2 separate regions of the Homo sapiens genome follow, and region 1 is linked to region 2. Evidence: fine-mapped QTL for protein levels in blood plasma. A gene starts in region 2. The other region holds a variant in brackets. All regions are shown on one strand. Distances are from middle to middle.

Evidence for each region. PIP is the chance, under the fine-mapping model, that this variant and not a neighbour inherited with it causes the effect. Sun 2018 read protein levels with aptamers (SomaScan).
Region 1: its variant is fine-mapped to the plasma level of the GFRA2 protein (Sun 2018, PIP 0.95).

The regions. Positions count from the first base shown.
Region 1 is chr8:21,688,115-21,697,636 of GRCh38, forward strand. It overlaps GFRA2 (GDNF family receptor alpha 2), which reads right to left. Exons shown (of 9, transcript NM_001495.5): 8 at 6,350-6,403; 9 at 2,284-5,286. The coding sequence ends at 5,164. Among named protein-coding and RNA genes, the nearest start is that of GFRA2, 96 kb to the right of the region's middle. RefSeq lists an enhancer at 4,705-5,205. The variant A/C (reference allele first, on the strand shown) is at 5,142.
Region 2 is chr8:21,784,295-21,793,910 of GRCh38, forward strand. GFRA2 (GDNF family receptor alpha 2) reads right to left here and starts at 4,581. Exons shown (of 9, transcript NM_001495.5): 1 at 3,826-4,581. The coding sequence starts at 3,865.

The DNA of each region.
Region 1 (9,522 bases), 96 kb before region 2:
CAACCTTATTTACCAGTTTGGCTTCTAAATGACTTTGGATTTTCCTAAAAAATTTAATCCATTTTTAAAAGATGAATGGGCCAGTCACGGTGGCTCATGCCTGTAATCCCAGCGCTTTGAGAGCAGAGGTGGGTGGATCACCTGAGGTCAGGAGTTCAAGACCAGCCTGGCCAACATGCCGAAACCCCATCTCTACTAAAAAAACAAAATTTACAAAAATTAGCTGGGTGTGGTGGCAGGTGCCTGTAATCCCAGCTACTTGGGAGGCTGAGGCAGGAGAATCGCTTGAACCTGGGAGGCAGAGGTTGCAGTGAGGCAAGATCGCACCACTGCACTCCAGCCAAAAAAAAAAAAAAAAAAAAAAAAAAAAAGATTATCTACCCCTACTAAGACTCTAAAAAAATGGGCAACAAACAGGCGATGAATCTGTTTACTTGTATTAACACAGTATGGGCCAGGAGCATGGGTGGGTCACACCTGTAATTTCAGACTTTGGGAGACTGAAGCAGGGGATCCCTTGAGGCCAGACAATTAGGATCAGCCTGGGCAACATAGTGGGATTCCATCTCTACCAAATAATAAAATGAATAGGGTGTGGTGGCACACACCTGTAGTTCCAACTACTTAGGAGTCTAGGGTGAGAGGATCACTTGAACCCAGGAGCCTGAGGTTGCAGTGAGCTATGATCACACCACCACACTCCAGCCTGGGCAAAAGAATGAGACCCTGTCTCAAAAAATAATAATAAAAATATTTAAATAAATACACAAATTTTTTAAAATATGCAGTAAGTGACCAGCCTCAGCATCCTTGGGAGGGGCAGCCCAATTTCAACTCACTTCACAGATCAGAAAATGCTGGTAAAGAATTTCTCCAGCTGGCAGGGAACACTGGGGCTTCAATCCTCATGAGTAAAGGAAAGTCTTCATCTTAGGCATTCGACAGTCTGTGGCTGGGAACTAGAGACAGGTGCATATGTATGGATGCACACGCACACACACACACACACACACACACACACACGCCCCTTCAGCATGAAGTGAAGCCATCGGTGCATGCACACAAACACATTCACACAAAGCCCCTTTGGCAGAAGTGAAGCCATGGGTGTGTGCGCACACACACACACACGCACACACACACACACACACGCACACACACACACACACACAAGCCCCTTTGGCATGAAGCCATAGCAGATGGGCTATGAGACCCTCAGAGGCAGGAACCAGCAGGCAGCCGACACTGGGAGGCTAAACCAGAGACCCGGTGGGCTCCTCAGTGAGCAGGCGAGTCATGGGCGAAAGTCCAGATTGGCCAAAGATGTCCATCCTGGCAGGCCTAGGACCACCATCAGGAAGGTCTGTGGGAAACAGCAGGGCACCTCCTCAGCCTAAGCATCCCCGTCAAGGCAGGACCAGCAAATGCAGGGCTGAGCCCCGTTCTGGGAAACCTGTGTGCCAAGCCGATAGCAAAGGCAGGGCCTGGGGTGCCAGGAACTAAGGTGACGACCCTGTGTTTGGTCTTGATACCAGGTAGGCGCCCTGCTGTGAGGACCACCGTGGGTCAACGTGGGACCTGCGGCACTGCTCACTCAATCCTGAGCTTCTGAATTGGCCACCTATATGACTTCACACTTGACAAGGTATCAGAGCCTAGAAAACGGAGTGAGCCAGACTTGCAGATAGAGGCATGCCCCTGATCAGGAATCCTCAGGGGGCTGGTGGCAAAAAAAAGCTAATTTTATACACTTTGCTGACTAGGGGGTAAAGGCACAGGGCCCTGGATTGCATGTGTCTGCAGTCTCCCACAGCAACTCTAAGAAAATCTAGAAATCAGTCTCTGGTGGCTGAGCTTGGGGGCTCACGCCTATAATCCCAGCACTTTGGGAGGCCAAGGCAGGCAGATTACTTGAGGTCAGGAGTTCGAGACCAGCCGGGCCAACGTGGCGAAACCTTGTCTCTATACTAAAAATACAAAAAAAAATAAAAAAATTAGCCAAGCATAGTGGCACACACCTGTAATCCCAGCTACTTGGGAGGCTGAGGCACGAGAATCGCTCGAACCTAGGAGACAGAGGCTGCAGTGAGCCGAGATCGCACCACTGCACTCCAACCTGGGTGAGAGTGTGACTCTCTCAAAAAAAAAAAAAAATCTATCTCTGGTGGTCCCTACCAAACTTTCCATGATTCACTTCCTGTTTTTGGTCCCTCAACCCCAATTTCAATGTCTAGACTCAAATGTCTTAATGTTACTAGAATTCATTCACACCATTAAATTAACTAACATTAAGATAGCAACAATTTATTCTTCTAGTTCGATTTGCATATTTTGAGAGAATCACAAATAGGAATCATCTCAACCAAAGGAATGAATACCTAATGGTAAAATTTCAGCCATGTGATACTTGGATAGGGAGACATTTGAGGGCAGAGTAAAGCTAGCTAGTATCCACTCCTCCTTCATAATGGCACCTCAGTTTCCTCTTGGGAAATTTTCTCTCCCCCATGATGTAGCCTAAGGGCTTACCTCCTATTAGGGATACCAGACATGACATATATATCCTCTCTCTCACACTCAAGTATGGCAGAGGGCAGGCACAAGGCCCAGTTCAGCCAGATGGGCAATGGTTGGCAGCAGAATGCTGACCCTGTACATCCTGCCTTCCAGCCCCTCAGATGCCCTCCAGTCCCTGCCCTCGCCTCCCCTGGTCCCCCCACCTCCCACAAATTCCGTGAGCCACCTTCTCCCATAGCCTTCCAGTAAAGTACTTTTTAAGTTAAATGGTCTTTGCTGTTTGCAAAGAACACGGATTCCTAAGTGGATGCCATGACCACGTCTACCCGCAATGGCTGGACAGAGACCTGGCTGGCTCACTGTACCCCTTCCATGCAGAGGCTGGAAGGCAATACACCACAGTGATAAACGCTGTGAACGGATGCTGCTCACACATATACAACCAGAAGCAAAAGCCATTGAGGGGACCTGCGATTGGGAGATGGGAAAACTGCATCCTATTGTCCAGTTGAAATGGGATGGGCTCACATGCAGCCCTGAAGGCCAGGCTGACAGTAGAAACATCTTCTCGCCTACCAGTCTTCCATTCTCCCTCCTGCCATGGGTATATATTCACACGTGCACGTGAACATGTGCGAGCCTGCACACGACCGCACACACATGTACACATGCTCACATACATGGACACACACACACTTGGCCAGCAGGCATTCTCCTGGTCCTCTCTGGGGAGAATCTCTCTTGGAGACTATGGCAGGCCTAGTGTCCAAGTGGGGCCTGGGTAGCAAATGGAGAAACAGGAAAGGAAGGAATAGAGGGAGACCCAAAAAATACTTATGCTTTCAGACCATGACCCCAGAACATGCACAGTCATGTCCTTCTTCTCTGGTGGGACCCAAAAGGCCAGGTCACTGCACTCACAATCACACATCTCAAATAAGCCAGGAGTCCCAGAGGGACATACCACTTTGCTCTATGTAAGACTAACAGGGCCACCCAGACAGCCTGACAATAAAACATTCCCAACGTGTGATGCCAAGCTGTGGCTCCCCACCACGTCCACGTCCACTGCATTCTCTTCCAGCCTGGGAGCCACAGGCATTTGCGCCAACTGGAGAAGTGAGCAAAGAGGGAACAGAACAGCCCACCAGGCTCAGCACAGCGTGGACCCTCAGATCCCGCCCCCAGTGTCAAACCAGCTCCTAAGAGAGCTCCATCTACACACAATGTGGACACATGGGTGAGACACATGGATGCACACACATGCACACAGGCACACACACGGACACACATTTCCCCAGCCCACTGGGAGCTCCACTTACGCAGGTAACACTGGACCAAGAACAAAATGGGGGCAAAACCCCACGGGACCGAGGCAGAGGCAGCTTGCTTCCTAGCACGTTTATTGGAGCCTTGGTTAAGCTTGGATGCGGATCAGGAGCCCCCACCAGAGCCCAGCCAGGCTGACTGGGGCAGGGCACTGCGGGGCCAATGTCCTTTTTCCCCATTATAGACAACAGTATTAAAAAAAATAAACTTTACAATAATACATTTTCGCTCATCTGTTGGGGTATTATTTCCATAGTTTTGTTGCTTAAAAAAAGGAAAGAAAGGGGAAACCACACAATATATGTATATGGATGTGTATATACATATATGTTAGGAGAGGAGCCCCGGTATGTACATACAGTTGACGTACGTCTAGGAAATGAGGAAAGAGAAAGGGGAAAGGAGGAGGAGGGAGAAGACAGCAGGAAAGCTTGAGGGCCCACGGTGCTGCAGACACACACCCGGCTGTGGTCTCTCCCCTCCCTCTCCCCAAAGGGAGGCCTGCCAAAGGACCCACGAGAAAGCAAAGAAGCCAACAAAGGACCGTTTCTCTCTGACTTCAAAATTTCTGCCACCGAGAAAGAAGCTGGTGCCCAAGTTTTAATGCCTCGCCACAAGGGCTCTCCCAGGCAGGCTGAGCTCTCAAGCCCTCCTGGAGCTGGCCCCCAGCCCCAACACTCCGTGCTACAGTCAGGGGGAGCCCAGCACGGTGCGAACCCCCTCCACCGCCATCCGTGGGGAAGTTCCCACACCAGCTGCAGACCCACCAGCCCCACCCGAGGGCAGAGAGGGAGGGCAAAACCATCTCCATCCTTGAAGCCAAAGGGCTGAAGGTGGACCCTCATGGCCAGCCCCGCTGCCCCGCTGACCGATGCCCTCTGCCAGCCCCCAGCGGGTCCCCAGAGTGGGCAGCCTGGGGAAGCAGCTGTGTTGTCCTGCCCCCAGCCAGCCTCAGGCACAGCCCAGAGTCCCTTCCGCTGCAGGCTCTTGTCCGGTCTCTGCTTCAGAAGGGTCCAGAGAGAAAAACACCAGGAGAAAGTGAAGGGCATTTCTAGAGCCTCGTGCCCTCCCCGGCACCAGAGTTTCCCCTGCCAGGGGACCCCTGGGCCAGCTCTCAGGCTGCCTGCCTGCTTGTCTGTTTGGTTTACAAAAACTTCTCCAGAGAAGAAACCTGGGAGGAGACAGGTTCAGCGACAAGGTGGGAAAAACAATTTTTTTTTTGCAAGGTGTGTGTGTGTCTGTGTGTGTTTCCATTTCGTCAGGCGGCTGTTCTTGTCTGCGTAGCTTTCAAAAAT[A/C]TTCTGACTCGGTTCCCACAGCCTACAAGGCCAGTTTCAGCATCAGGACAGACAGCACGGTCAAGGCAGCCGACGGTCTGGCTCTGCTGGGGCCTGAGTTAGGTTTGATCACCTTGTTACTCCCTGGGATGATATTTGTCGTGAGCTGAGTCCGCAGCAGGAGAAGAATCAGGAACAAAGAGAATGAAAACAAAGAAAACAGTCAGGAGGCCTGGGACCCGGCAGAGAAACGGACTCAGGAACTGGACACCTCAAGCCCCTGTCCTCTCTTCCACCCACAGGGACCCTCCTTTGCACTCTGAAGGGAGCGCTGACTCTCCCGGAGCTGGCCCAGGCAGGAGCAGAAGGGAATGCTCTGTCCCTTCTGGTCACAAGCCCTGGGGTTTGGAGAGGAGGGCAGTGGTCACCAGGATAACAGGCTACTCCTCCCTGCATCAGGGCTGAGGACCTGCGTCCCAGTGAGGAGGCAGATGGTATAAAGAGCTGAAGAAGGAGGAGAGAAGAAGAAGGAGAGGAGAGAGGAAGGAGAGGGGAAGGAGAGAGGAAGGGAAGGGGAGGGGAGGGGAGACAAGGGAGCCCACATTCGCCCTGTTTCTCAATTTCTTCCAATCCCCACTCCTCCATGAAGCCCTCCCTGAACATCTTTGTCTGAGTTTCTCTTTCTTCTGTGAGGTCTCACACTGCCTTTTCTTCTCATCTAAGTTACTGTCTTGGGTCTATAAGTCATATATATATATACGTCATATACATGAGATATATATATTTATATATACGTCATATATATGAGATATATATATATTTATATATATATTTATTTATTTTTATATATATATATATTTCCTATAGTGGGGGTTTCTTCAAGGGAAGAACTGTGTCTGTTTCCACTTCTGTGCCTCCTAAATATCACAGCAACAGTGCCGAGCAGGTGGTCGACACAACTGTCTTAAGAGAGTAAGGAAGGCATGGGAGGGCCTCTGCTCAGAGCAGCCATTTGTCTCTCCCCAAGGAGAGAGCCAGGGGCCCTGGATGCAGCCTTCGCACTCCCCCACCCCACCCCAGCAGAGTAAGTGCCCACCCTGGTCCAGAAGCTCAGCTGGCCCAGCCCATGCGATGAGATTTGAGGGCGCTGGATCTGAGGCTCGCCGGGGAAATGCCGCCCCCCACCGGCCCAGCCTTCTGCACCCATCCCCACTCTGCCCCCAACTCACCTCTGTGAAGCACATGCTTAACTCTTTGGAGTTGTTGGCCTTCAGCCCCTGCTCCTGCGAGAGAGAAGGTGCCAGTCAGGACGAGTCACCAGGCTGTTCCTGGCTGGGCTTTGTCCAGAGACTTAGATGAGGCCCCGCCATGCACTGTTGGCTCCGCTAAGCACAGCCAGCGCACACGGTGAAGAGGGTAGCTCAATTCCACCCAGCACAAAAGGCTTCTGCCCTTCTCTGACACCCTCAGCAATTAGGACCCGACTCCTCTGGCTCCTGGAGAACAGAGTTCTAACTCTGCTCCCAACTAGCGGCATTATATAGTCATCAGCCATTCGCATGTCTGTCCATATACTCAGCGCAACTCTTGGGCAGGGACCATGTCTTCTTTTCCTCACACTGAGCAGTGTCTGGTTCATAACAACAACTCAACAAATGTTTCACTAGATGCCTGCATCCATGAATGAATGAATGAATGTCACAGATCATAAACAGCCTCCAAGAGCCAACTCCTGTTAATTTGCCATGGCTGATGGAGGGCTCTATATAAAAAGATCATGAGCATTCATCTGGGCTTGAGGGGAAGAGAGGCATGATTGATTAGTGATGTCTGCCACTGGTCCATTAGGTGGATATCTGGCAACTGCACCAGCCCATTTCTGTCCTACACGGATGTGCACACCTGGGAACACTGTGGGCAAGGTGAGGGACGAGAAGGGCTGCCTTGGTAATGATTCCAAGATTGTCTACCCTGGTGTGGCCACCTGGATGCAGGGCCAGAGGGCGCACATGATGAACGGCCCTCTGTTATCATCACTGTAATGGAGATCCATGGGAACCAGCTGGGGATGCAGCGCTTCCATCCAGGATTCAAATGGCTTGTTCCCAGGGCACTTCCAGGGAAGTTCTGGCCACCAAAAGCAACTGGGAAGCCCAAGAAATTATGCCGCAATCACTGCCCTCGGCCAGAAGTATCAATAACCCCTTGGACATCACAGGCAATCTACCACCCAGGGCATCTGGTCAGCTAAACAAGACCCCAGCTGTCACATGGAGACGCTGGCCAAGAGTAGAGTCACTGCCAATGGTGGAGATAGGACCACGGTGATGATTAGCACAGCGAGAATGGAACCAGGAGTGTCCCCAGGTGCCAAGGTGATGCCCAGCCAACTCCCCAGCTGTTGCCCTCTGCAGAAGGGCACGTGCTCGACAACTCTTCCAGACCCAAGGCCTGGACTCCACTCCCCAGGACTTGGTGCTGTTCCAGCTAAGACTGTGAGGCCACGGGGAAGGGTGTCAGGGAAAAAGAACACGCCCACCCCCTCAGAGGCTGTGCTGTCATAATGGCCTCGCATCTGTCCTCCCGAGTCCCTTGGCCAATCCTTGCTCAGTCACCTCAGTCCCTACTTGTGACATCCTATGGCTTGTTGGAGTCTGTGCCTGTGGCCTGACACCTACGGACACCCAGCGTCACTTCCTACTCTCATTGTTTCAGGTGTGGCAGGCCAGTCCCCGCCCTTTCTGGGAGTCCATGTCTTATCCCTACATCCCTACCCCCAACAGAGCTCACTAAACCATTGGGAGCCCTCTCCTTTGTCCCCTCCCCATCTCCTGTGTCCCCTCCCCCCTCTCTCCCCTCCCCCTCCTCTGTCCCCTCCTCCTTTCCTGTCCCCTCCCCTCTCCCTCTGTCCCCTCTCCCTCTGTCCCCTTTCCCTCTTTCTCCCCTCCCCTCTCCCTCTCCCTCTGTCCTCTCCCCTCTCCTCTGTCCCCTCCCCTTTCCTCACTAAACCAGTGGAGCCCATGGGGAATCACAGAGGCAGAAGCTCCCTGCACTCAAGATCCTCACCCCCATCCACCATAACAGCTCCATTTTTATTTGTTTTGTATATTGGAGTCTTAGCTGTTTTGTATATTGGAGTCTTAGCTTATTTGTATATTGGAGGTACGCATAAAATTGTTTGGATAATAGTCTACTGCTTAACAAAATAAGGCTTGAGAAAACAACCGACAAGAAGGGCCCCAGGGTGGGGCCTGCACAATGTGCTGTGGCTGTGGGTGCCACTCTCAGGGGAGCCCCGGACCTAGACACTCTGCAGGGTTACACCCGAGGTCAGCCCATGCAGAGCAGCTGGCAAAGCAACCAGCACACACCAAGTGCATTTTCCCTGGCCTGGGAGCTTGGCCAGGTGTGGAGAGAGAGGATCTAAAGGCCGACGCTCCAGAGAGCAAAGGGGGCCTGCAACTGGACTTTGCTCCTCGGAGTGAGCAGAACTTGACAAGTTCCTCTTAAATAGGATAGAGTGGAGGGGACACTGGCAAGTATTACACAGGAAAAATGACAGAGAAGAGGAGAGTGAAGAAAGGGGTGGAAGGAAGAGAGGAAACCAGGTGAAGGGAGAAGCAGAGAAATGGAAACAGGAAAGAGGAAGAGGGGGAGGGGACAGAGTGAGAGGAGAGGGGACATAGTAGAGGGAAGGGGACAGAGGAAGGGGGAGGGGACAGAGGAAAGGGGAAGGGACAAAGGAGAGGGCAGGGGAGAGAAGAGAGAGGGGACAGAGGGAGAGATGAAGGGACAGAGGAGAGGGGAGGAGACAGAGGAGAGGGAAGGGGACCGAGGAGGGTAGATGGGACAGAGGAAAGGGGAAGGGACAGAGGAGAGGGGAGGGGAGAGAAGGGGGAGGGGACAGAGGGAGAGGGGAAGGGACAGAGGATAGGGGAGGGGACAGAGGAGAGGGAGAGGGGACAAACGGAAAGGGGAGGGGAGGGCATGGTAAGGGGAGGAAGCTGAGGGAGAAAGATAGCAGGAGGGGAGGGGACAGAGGAACAGAAGACAGAGGGAAGAAATAGAGGAAGGAGGCAACAGAGGGCAGGGGAGAGAATAAAGGGGGAGGCAAGAGGGCTGAGGACAACCACTGTACCCTCTCATCTGATGCTGATTATCAGGGGACAGTGAAACACCTCCCTGGGCCATCCCAAGGGACATCTGCCCCAAGGTGTGGTCTCTGCCAGGGGCAACAGGGCCCTTGGGTGGGAGTGTTGCCCAGCAGCTGACCTTTCCTGAAGGTGGCACCTAGTGGCGGGAGGGGCAGAGAGAAAGAGAGACCACCTCTGATGCCAAAACCACCAGTGTCTCAAATTCAGTGCCTCCCTGCCCTCCAGGGGCTCATACTCTAATAGAGAAA
Region 2 (9,616 bases):
CAGGAAAAGCCCGCACCATGGCCCAGAGCCATGACTGCCCTTTCCTGGACCGAAAGAGTAATTTGGGAGGCTTCCTCGACTCCATCTCGCCTCAGAACATAATAAAATCCTAGGCCAGAAGTCCCCTCCTCAATACCGCAGAATTCCCCATCCCTACCCAGAACAGCCACTCTCAGGCCATCCCCCGGGAGGCCCTGCTCAGGGGAGCGCTACCGCAGGGAGACAGCGACACCTAAAGGCAGCGCGCTGCACAGCGGGCCTTCGCTCCCGAGAGCCCCCAGAGAACAGGAATCCATCCACTCCCGGTGGGACCAGCCAGGAGACCCATCCCTAGGGGACAACAGAGAAGAACAGCAGGGATGGGCCTGGGGTACAGAAGGCTTCTTCGGGGCCCAGAGCAAAAGACGTGCCCTTCTCCCACTGACCAGACCTCTGCCACAGAACAGGAAGGCTGATGGATGTGGCCAGGCTGAGACAAGACCAGAGAAGAAATCAGACCGGAGTTTGAGGCCCGGCACTGGCTGGAGAGCTGTCCTCCACACAAGCTGAGGCAGCGTCTTTCTTCCCCGGCTTCAGCAGATTCCTACCTCCCTGAGCAGGACCCGCGTACAGCCGGGCCCCCCAAGAGCAGCTGAGTTGACACGGCCCCGCCTGTACCTGCGGCCCCCAGCCAGCCCGTGGGAGCCTCTGGAAGAATATAACCCTGGGCCCTCCACTGACTTAACCACCCCGCCTCCCCATAGGCTAATGCCCTCCCACCTTGACTGAACTGAAGGCTGCACTGTCATGGGGGCCTGGAAATGGAACTTCCTGGCTTCCTTAGCCTTCTGTAGGCACAGAATTCACCGCGTGCTTAAAGGTCAGAAGATTAGCCCAGGGGATTCAGGGCATAAGGACGCTTTTTTTGCTTGTCCTACAGTTGGGCCTAGAGCCCCACAGGATGATCCTTACACAATCTTAGGGAGGCTCCCGTGCCAGAACTGAGGGCTTCCCCCATCCTGCCACCTGGCACGTGTGGCCAGGCAACAGACACACTCTGCGAAGGGCCGGGGCATCCATTCACCAAACCATCCTTGACTCTTCTAGTTCATTCCATGACCCCCAGAACCAATCAAGCCCAGCCAGAGAAAGGAATCCCTGCAGCCTGCAGCCTTTAGCTAAGAATCCTAAGAGAGTGAAGGGCAGGGGGTGTCCTGGTGATGTTTCCAAATCCTAAATTAGGAGAAAACTTTGATCCATCAAGACACAGGGAGTAGCTGCTAGAGACACAGGGGTAGAGGGGGGTGGAGAAGCGACACAGGGCTACAATTGCCCTACTGCATCCAACATCCCACCAGAGCTAGAATGTGTGCTAGAAAGTCAGTCGGAAGTGGCCCCCTCTGGCCAGCCCAACACCCCCACCCGAGTCACTTTCCCCTTCTCCTTCTCTCCCTGGGTCAGCACTGGAGGTCAAGATACTGGGCAAGAAAGGCCTCTCTCTCCACCATGGGTTATCCAGCCCAGACCTCACTCAGAATCTCAGTAGGGGCACACCAAAGGCCTTTGCCCCCAGCTGAAATTGCCCACCAAGTCTCAAGCCCCAGAAAAACCTCCCCCGACCCTCCACCCACCCACCCAGTGGGATTTTCAACCAGCTTCCTGCCAGGAAAAGGGCCCCAGGGCTGAAGTTTCCTAAACACCAACCCATCCCTTCCTTTCCACTGGCCTAACCCAAAGCCTTTCAGTATCTGTGGTCACTCCACTCAGCCCAGCTTTAGAAGGGGACTTCTCGAGGGAAGGAAACTGAAGGGCTGTGGAGCAAGGGGATGCTGAGCCTGCTGCTCTTCTGCTCTCACCCCCGCCTCTCAACACTCAGCCTCCAGGGTTGCAGACATTGGGTTGGGCCTCTCTGGTCATCTCCCATGCACACACATACACACCCACCACGAGCAGGAACCCCAGCCACTTCTGAAAAGGAGAAAGGTGGACTCCTTAGCCTGCCCGGCTGGAGAAAGCCTGCCTGCAATGACCAGGGGCCCACACTGCTCTTCTCCAGCCCCCGACCACAGATGGTGCCCACACCTGGGAGCCCTGCCCATGCTGGGGTATGCAGCTCAGCAGTAGGCAATCTGGCTGTTTTGCCTGAAATACAATTTTTTTTTCACCTTGGCCCTGATCATGCTTGGACCCAGAAGGCTGGGTTTTCAAGCTAGCAGTGGGAGAAAAAGGTCAGATTTTATAGTAGCCCCTTCAGAATGAGAGTCCACTTGCCAGGGTTGACAGGAAGGGCTTCGGGATCACAGCGGGCCCAGAGCAACTTCCAGCTTCCTAGAGGAGCCCCTCCCACCCCAGAGAGAAGCTGCCTCTGGCTGAGGGAGGTAGGACCTCTGAGGCCACACCCTAGAGCAGGGACTTGCCCCCTTGGGGACTCGCACCTGGCGGGAAGCAGAGGGGACAGGCAGAGAGTCCAGAGCCTGTGTGGACACCCAATGACTCCGGTCCCCTATCCTAGTCTGGCGAGCACTTCTTAGACCACGCACATCCTCCTGTAACCAGCTCCTACCTCCCCACTCGTGGCCTTCCCAGATCCCCTACTGCAGGAGGGAGAGGGTGAGATCATGACCCCGCTGGGCAGCCTGGCTCAACACTGGCTACACAGCAAGCCAAGGTGGTAGAACTACACCCTCACTGAAGCAGACGTGTGCTCCTTACAAACACACTCACACACACACACACATACACAGTAGTTACCCGGCTCCCTCTATGGGAGCGTCTACTCCCTGGCAGCAGCCCTGCCTGGGACTCCCGGTGGTGCACAGCCTTGCAAACAACCGCCTTTCCTCACCTCCCTCCGGAGATTGCCATTTCCCAAGCAGCTGCGATTTCACCTAGCTTTAAAGGGAGAGAGGAGCTGGGAATTCTGTGTGGAAAAGAAACTGCGTGGGGCTCAGTGGCGCCAGGCAGCCTCTCCTCCCTGTCTTGGAGGCGGCGGGGGGGGCAGTGGGGGGGGTTTGCAGAAGGAGCAGTGGTCTTTGTTCAGACCCGTTTTTCCTCCCTCGCCTCCCACCCTCTTCAACGGAGAAAGCAAACTTTGGCCTCCCTCCCGCCTCTTCCCACCAGCCACGGGGGTCCGCGGCCCCCAGAGGTGGAGGAGGGAAGGCCGGGAACGGCTGCTCACAACCCTCCGCTCCCGCCCACCCATCTGGCTCGGGGCTCGGTGGGGAGAAACTTGAAAAGTGTTCCGGGGAGTGGAGCCGCCGGTTAGGGGCTCAGGGCGTGGGGACGCGGGCTCCGTTTGCCAGGCGCGGCTGGCAGGTGGGGAGTGACTGCCAGCGCTCCCCGCGCGATGTCCAAGCGGGAGCCGCCGGAGAAACCCGCGCCCTCCACCACGACCGACTCGGGGAGCAGACCAGGAAAGGCGGACCCCGCAGGACTGTTCTCTCCCCGCCTAGGAGCCTCTCTCTCCCTCCCTTCTTGCAGATCAAGAGTTGGATATTTTTTTTTCTTAAGTTGCCGCAATTCGAACCCATTATTTCGGGGGAGATGCGCGCTATACTGGCGTGTGAGCGAGCGCGGGTGTGTGTGTGCGTGCACAGTGTCTGCGGGGCTGGTTCGGATGTTGAGTCTCCCTCCCGATCCCCCTGCGTCGCCAGCCAGCCGCGGCTCCGGTCCCTCGTCCGCGTCCCTGCCGCCCGGCCCCGCTCGGTTCGCCAGCACCGGGCCCGGCTAGCTCCGCGGCGCGCTCTCCCCGCCGACCTCCCGCCAGCCCCCCACCGGCGCTCCGCTCGCCCCCCGCCTCCCCGGCTTCTCGCCTCCCCCTCGAGCTCGCCGCCCGCAGGTACTCACCTAGAAAGAAGAAGAGGCAGAAGACGTTTGCCAAGATCATGTTAAATAAATCCCACCGTTTTTTTGTCTTTCTCCCTTGGGTAAAAAAAAATAATAGTAGTAACAACAACAATAATAATAGGCAAGCAGTGGTAATCAGCCCCAAATCCAATGCGGAGATCCCAGCTAGTCCACCCGATGAAGATCCCGAGTCCTGCGATTCTCGCCTCTGGCTGGAGGGGGTGGGGTGAGAGGCGGGCGATGGGCTGCTGCCTCTCGACGCCCCCCTTGCCCGCTACAATCAAATATACGCGTATCTGTGTATCGGCTTTCTAAGCCAACAGCCCAGTCCTGGGGTCAGCCCTCCCCTCCAATCGTCCGGGAAGGCGTGAGTCCCCGCGGGTCCAATTCCCCTGCGCTTCCCAGGAGGGGCCTGGGGAGGTGGGGAGAGAGGCGATTTGCGAGTGAAGGGCTGGAAGGAAGCGGCGAGGGAGGGGGTCGGAATAAAATGCAAATAGAAAAGAAATCCACAGACGGGTGTCAGCGCCCAAGAACAATCCAGTCGGAGCTTCGAGGACGAGAGACTGGAGTCGCTTCTTTCGCACCAAGACGAAGACAAGATTCAAAAAAATCTTCTCCCGCTAACCCTTGCTCGGCTCACTTTTTTCTAATGGAATTCCAGTGACCGTGTGTCTCTGCGTGCGTGTGTCTTTCTCTCTCCTCTCTCTCTCTCTCCTCTCCCTCGCTCGCTCTTTGCTCTCGCTCTCTCCAGCTCTCCCTCGCTCTCCTCTCTCCCTCCCCCTTCTCCCACTCTCCCTGCTCCTCCCTCCGCCCGCCCCCTTCTCCCTTCGCGGCTCCCTCGCCCGGGCTCTCGCGCCAGCGCCCCTCTCCTCCGCCCCGGGCTCGGCGCTCGGGCTCCCAGGCGGCTGGCGGCGCGGGGCGCGGGGCGCGGGAGCGCGGCGGAGCTACGATGCTCTGCAGCGGCGGCGGCGACAAGGCGAAGGCGGTGGCGGTGGCGGTGGCGGCGGCGGCGGCGCCGGGGATCGCGGGCCGAGAGGAGAGCCCAGCCGCCGGCTCCCTCGGCTCAATCGCCCGCCCTTCCTGGGACTGACCTGCTGCCTTGGCCGGAAACTGACTGGCTCCCCCGGCTACGGCTCGGGCTCGAACCCACTCAAGCGTCGGCACCCTCCTCCTCCTCCCCCCGCAGCTCTCCCCACCCTGGGGACCGGCTGCGCCCTCCAACCCCCACTGCCCCTGCCCCCGCCCCCTGCGCCGCTGGGTCTGGGAAGCCTGGGGAGCTGAGCTGAGGCTGGAGGGCGCGGAGTCCGTGGGGCCCGAGCCATCCGGGGGCTCGGGGGGCAGGGCGTTAGAAAAACCCCAGCCGGTGGCCCGGGTCTGAGGGGGGCTCCACCCTCCGTGGGCTAAGGCGTCCCTGCGCCCAGGAGCCGAGGCCGACAAAGCGTCTCCCCGATGGTGCCAGGGAAAGGAATTATCCCCTTCGGCGCCGGCCCCGCGCGCCCCCGAACCCAACGCATCCTGCCGGCCCCGGCCTAGCCCCGCGCGCACATACACGTGTGCTCTCCGCGCGGACCTCGGGAACTTTGCCCTCACGCCCGCGGCGCGCTTGCCTCCCGCCCGCCCCGGCCTCCACCCCTTCGAGATGCCCCTTCCCCAGCCGGTCTCCCCTCCCCCCGGCTCGGGAAGAAGCCTGCTGGGCCAGGGCGCCCTGACCACCTCCTCGGAGGCCGGCAAACCTGCCTGAACCGCCCCAGAGGAATCGGGCAGGGGCTCGCACCCCACCCCGGCAGGAGGGCCCCGAGACCGACCCGGGCCGGGGCTCCGCAGCCGGCTGGGCTCCGAGGAGCTCGTCCCGAGGCAGCTCCCGGCTCCCTAGGCTCCGGGGTTGGGGGGTTCCTCCTCCCCTAGCCGGGAAGGGGGCGATTGATCCATCTGTCGGTGGGCCGGGCTCACCGGCGTGTTTTAGTCGCAGAATTTACAATAAACGCCCAGAAGGACCTAAAAGGAAGCGTCTGGCTGGGAAAGGGCTGGAGGAGAGGTGCGGCTGCGGTCACGTTCCGGCGAGAGCGGGAGAGGCGCGGGGTCGCGGTCGCGCGAGGGCTCACACCCACGCAGCCCGGCATCCCCCGGCCCTCGCGCCACGTTCCTCGCACTCAGCTCGGCGCGCACACACGGTGTCCTGGGGTGGGGTACACGCAGCGCCTCAGAAACTTTTCGTGCTGCCCAAAACAATCTGGGCTGCACGTAACATGAATTTGATAGTACCGTTTAAGATGCATTCTTAAATAACAAGACTCTGGAATCCAGTAAATGCTAGAAATCGACTTGGACGAGAAGGGAGGGGTCACTAACAAAACCAGCAGCCTTAGCTATTGGGAAAGCTAGAGGGAGCAACTTCCATCTTGAGGATTTAGGCGGGAAGGCGGCTGCTCCCGGCCTTGGAAGCACAGAGAGCGAGTCTCCTGTGAACGCCTCTTTCCTGTGGTCCGTCCTGGGGCATCGACCTTCCTCCCTCCATCTTCTCCCCCAGCCATCCAGTTGTGCCTGCTTCGAGCCTAGGCCCTAGCTGGGTAGTGACGAGTCTGGGACAGAGGGCTTAGGGATTGGAGTTGGGGAAAGCCCCCTTCAGGCCTGCCCTCCCTGTCATTCCTCCAAGCCTCTCATGTTCTAGGAAGTGACTTCGCATCTGACAAGGTCTCTTGGCTTTTTTTCCAAAAATTGGGGAGCATAAGGAACCGGCTTTGGATAAGTGTAGGTTAAAAGATAAAACTTGACAGGAATTACACTGCCAGGCAGGCTTGGCCTGGAGGCCCGAGGCTGGGAGCCTGGCCTAAATGAATGTCCCCCCTCTCATCTCCTCGACTTCCAGGGTCTTCTGGTTGTCCAAATACTCCCCACCACCACCCATTTCGGAATCTCACGCAGGCCTTCCCCCTTCCAAGGACCCTGCTCCAAACTCCAGAATTTCTGCTCAGCATATCCCTCTCCCCTTCCCCACAAAAAAGAATTTCACTTTCTTTTAACTTCATTTGAGCATAATGAGAGAAATTCTCTGAATCATATATGTAGTTCTCCCCTCCCACCTATCCAGAAAATGGGGCTGAGAAAGCAGCAATGAAGCCCTGGGGATGGTTCTCACTGAGCTCCCACGGGAGTAGGAAAGAGGATTCCGGTAGCAGGAGGTAAGTGGCCCTTCTGCGACCCAAGACCACCCAGCCATCCCAAGAACAGTAGAGAACACCAATCAGTCACCACCAGCATTCAGCTTGTGTGACTGCAGGGCACTCTGACCTTGGACCCTCTCTTACCTACTGCCTATACAGACGTATCCCATGACACCCCACCCTCTGCCCACCCCAACACTCAACCCAAACTGCTCTTAAAAATGGCATCATCCCTTATTTCCTGAGCATCTGCCATGAGGAAGACCCCCTGCCTTGTGCCGGGATCTACAGAGGAAACACAGTTGAACATGTACTATAACACCTTATAGATAAGAGGACTTCTGAACCTCAGTCATCTCATCTATAAAATGGGGATTAAAAAAGATAAACCAACGTTGTAGAAATTACATAAGATACTACACAAAGCGGCTAGTACAATGCCTGGCCCATATAAAGTTGTTTACTGCTTTGCTCTGGGTTCTAGAAGAAGAATTAGGGACCTATGACAAGGCAATAAAACCTAAGGGGCAAATGAGAAGCAGAAACAAAAAGCTACAGGGGTTCAAGGGCAACAGAGACTATTAAGCAGCTGTCGTAAGAGGTAGTCATAGGAAAATGTGAAGTCTCTAGCAGGTAGGAGGCAAGCCCTAGGCTCACCAACAGACTTCCACACATTCCGTAGTGCCTGAGTCCTTTTACAGCCTTCCTGGCTCATTCCAGTGCTCCTGAGTTCACCAGCAGCTGAGCCTCCTGCCCACAGCCCCTCCCCATCACAGATCCTAGAGTCCAAATCTGCATGGGGAGGGAAAGGCAACACCGAATCCTTCCATTCCTTCCCTTTCTCTTATCTCTCTAGTCCTCTCTGCTTATGGAGTGGGTTCTCTGGATAGCAGGAGAGGGAAGAAGGACCAGTGGAGGGGAGGGCGTTGCAGCCCCACCCCAACACACGCACACATGCGCACCTAGGCCTGGGCCACACTGCTCACTGACCACAATCTTATTCCTTTGTGAAGGGAAGAAGGCTGAGGGTTCCCTGACCCCAGAGATAAAAATCGACCAGGAGTGAAAAGAAGGTGCCTCACATCCAGCTAATACTGTCAGGAGCCACAGAACTGGCAAGGTGGAAGTGTCCTCTGCCATGGGACAGAGCCTGATCCAGGGCACCCCACAATCAATCCATCAGCACAGACTTATTGAACGACTTCTCTGGCCCCAGCAGGGCCAACGGCTGTGGGGAATACAGCAAGACTGCCCCTCCCCTGAAAGCATTTATAGAGTCAAGCGTGTAGCTATGAGAAGATACTGAAAAAAACAAAGGCACAGTGGGAGAAAGGAAGAGTTGGTACCACTGGATTTCAGGAGTGCAATCAGAGAGGACTTGCTAGGGGTAGGATTCAAGCTGGAGCTGGAAGGATGGGTAGAATTTGGCTGAGCACAGAGGAGGACACTCCAGGTGAGCAAACAGCAGAGGCAAGAGCACAGTGATTAGAAAGTTCTCAGGAGGCTGGGTGTGGTGGCTCATGCCTATAATCCCAGCACTCTGGGAGGCAGAGGCGGGCAGATCACCTGAGGTCGGGAGTTCCAGACCAGCCTGACCAACATGGTGAAACCCCGTTTCTGCAAAAAATACAAAAAACATATCCAGGTGCGGTGGCGCACACCTGTAGTCCCAGCTACTCGAGTGCCTGAGGCAGGAGAACCACGTGAACCTGGGAGGGAGAGGTTGCGGTGAGTCGAGATGGCACCACTGCACTCCAGCCTGCGCAACAGAGCGAGACCCTGCCTCAAAAAAAAAAGAGAAAGTTCTCAGGAAAGGAACAATCCAGTGGGTGGGAGGAGCCAAGTGCACAGGTTGGGGAAGAACTAGAGGGTCCAATTGGGGTGCTCAAGTGGAGAAGAACCAAGCCTTGCAGTCTTCAGATTCATGCACCAGGAGCCGCTGAAGGTTTTTGAGCAGGCAACTGACATGATGAGAATAATGTTTTAGGAAGATTGATCTGATGACTGTGTGAGGGATGGAGACCAGGGGCCAATTAGGAGGTGATTGTAACAGTCCCAGGCAGAGGTAATGAGGGTCCAACAGGGAGTGGCAGTGGGCGTGGACAGAGGGAGAGGGTTGTCAGAGGCAGTGTAAGGATGAATTGGCATGATGCTGGAACACAGGGAGAGTCGCCAGGCCAAGACAAAGTGACCAGCCTAGCGGCTCAGCCTTTGTCCTTGGAAAAATAATAATTAAAGTAGCCAAATTTATGGCTAGATACAAGTTAATACTCCTTCAAATTCCTATAATAACTCGATGGCTATTATTAGGTACTATTAATAGCCTCATTTTCAAGTGAGAGAGGAGAGGCAAGAGAAGTGATTCAACTGCCCAAGGTCATATTTTAAGTGGCAGAATCTGGATTCAAACTCGGGCAGTCAGGATCCAGCACCCCCAACTGGTCAATTCTGTGCCTTGTATCGGACAAGAAAAGTGGCGGCTCTCCAGGCCCACACATGTTCATATTCCCCTTCACAACACCTAAGATATCCTCTTCCTCCCTTCCCTATCCACAAATAGTGTGAAAAAAATCATGAGAATCAAAGTTTTTTTTTTTTTTTTTGAGACAGTCTCGCTCTGTCACCCAGGT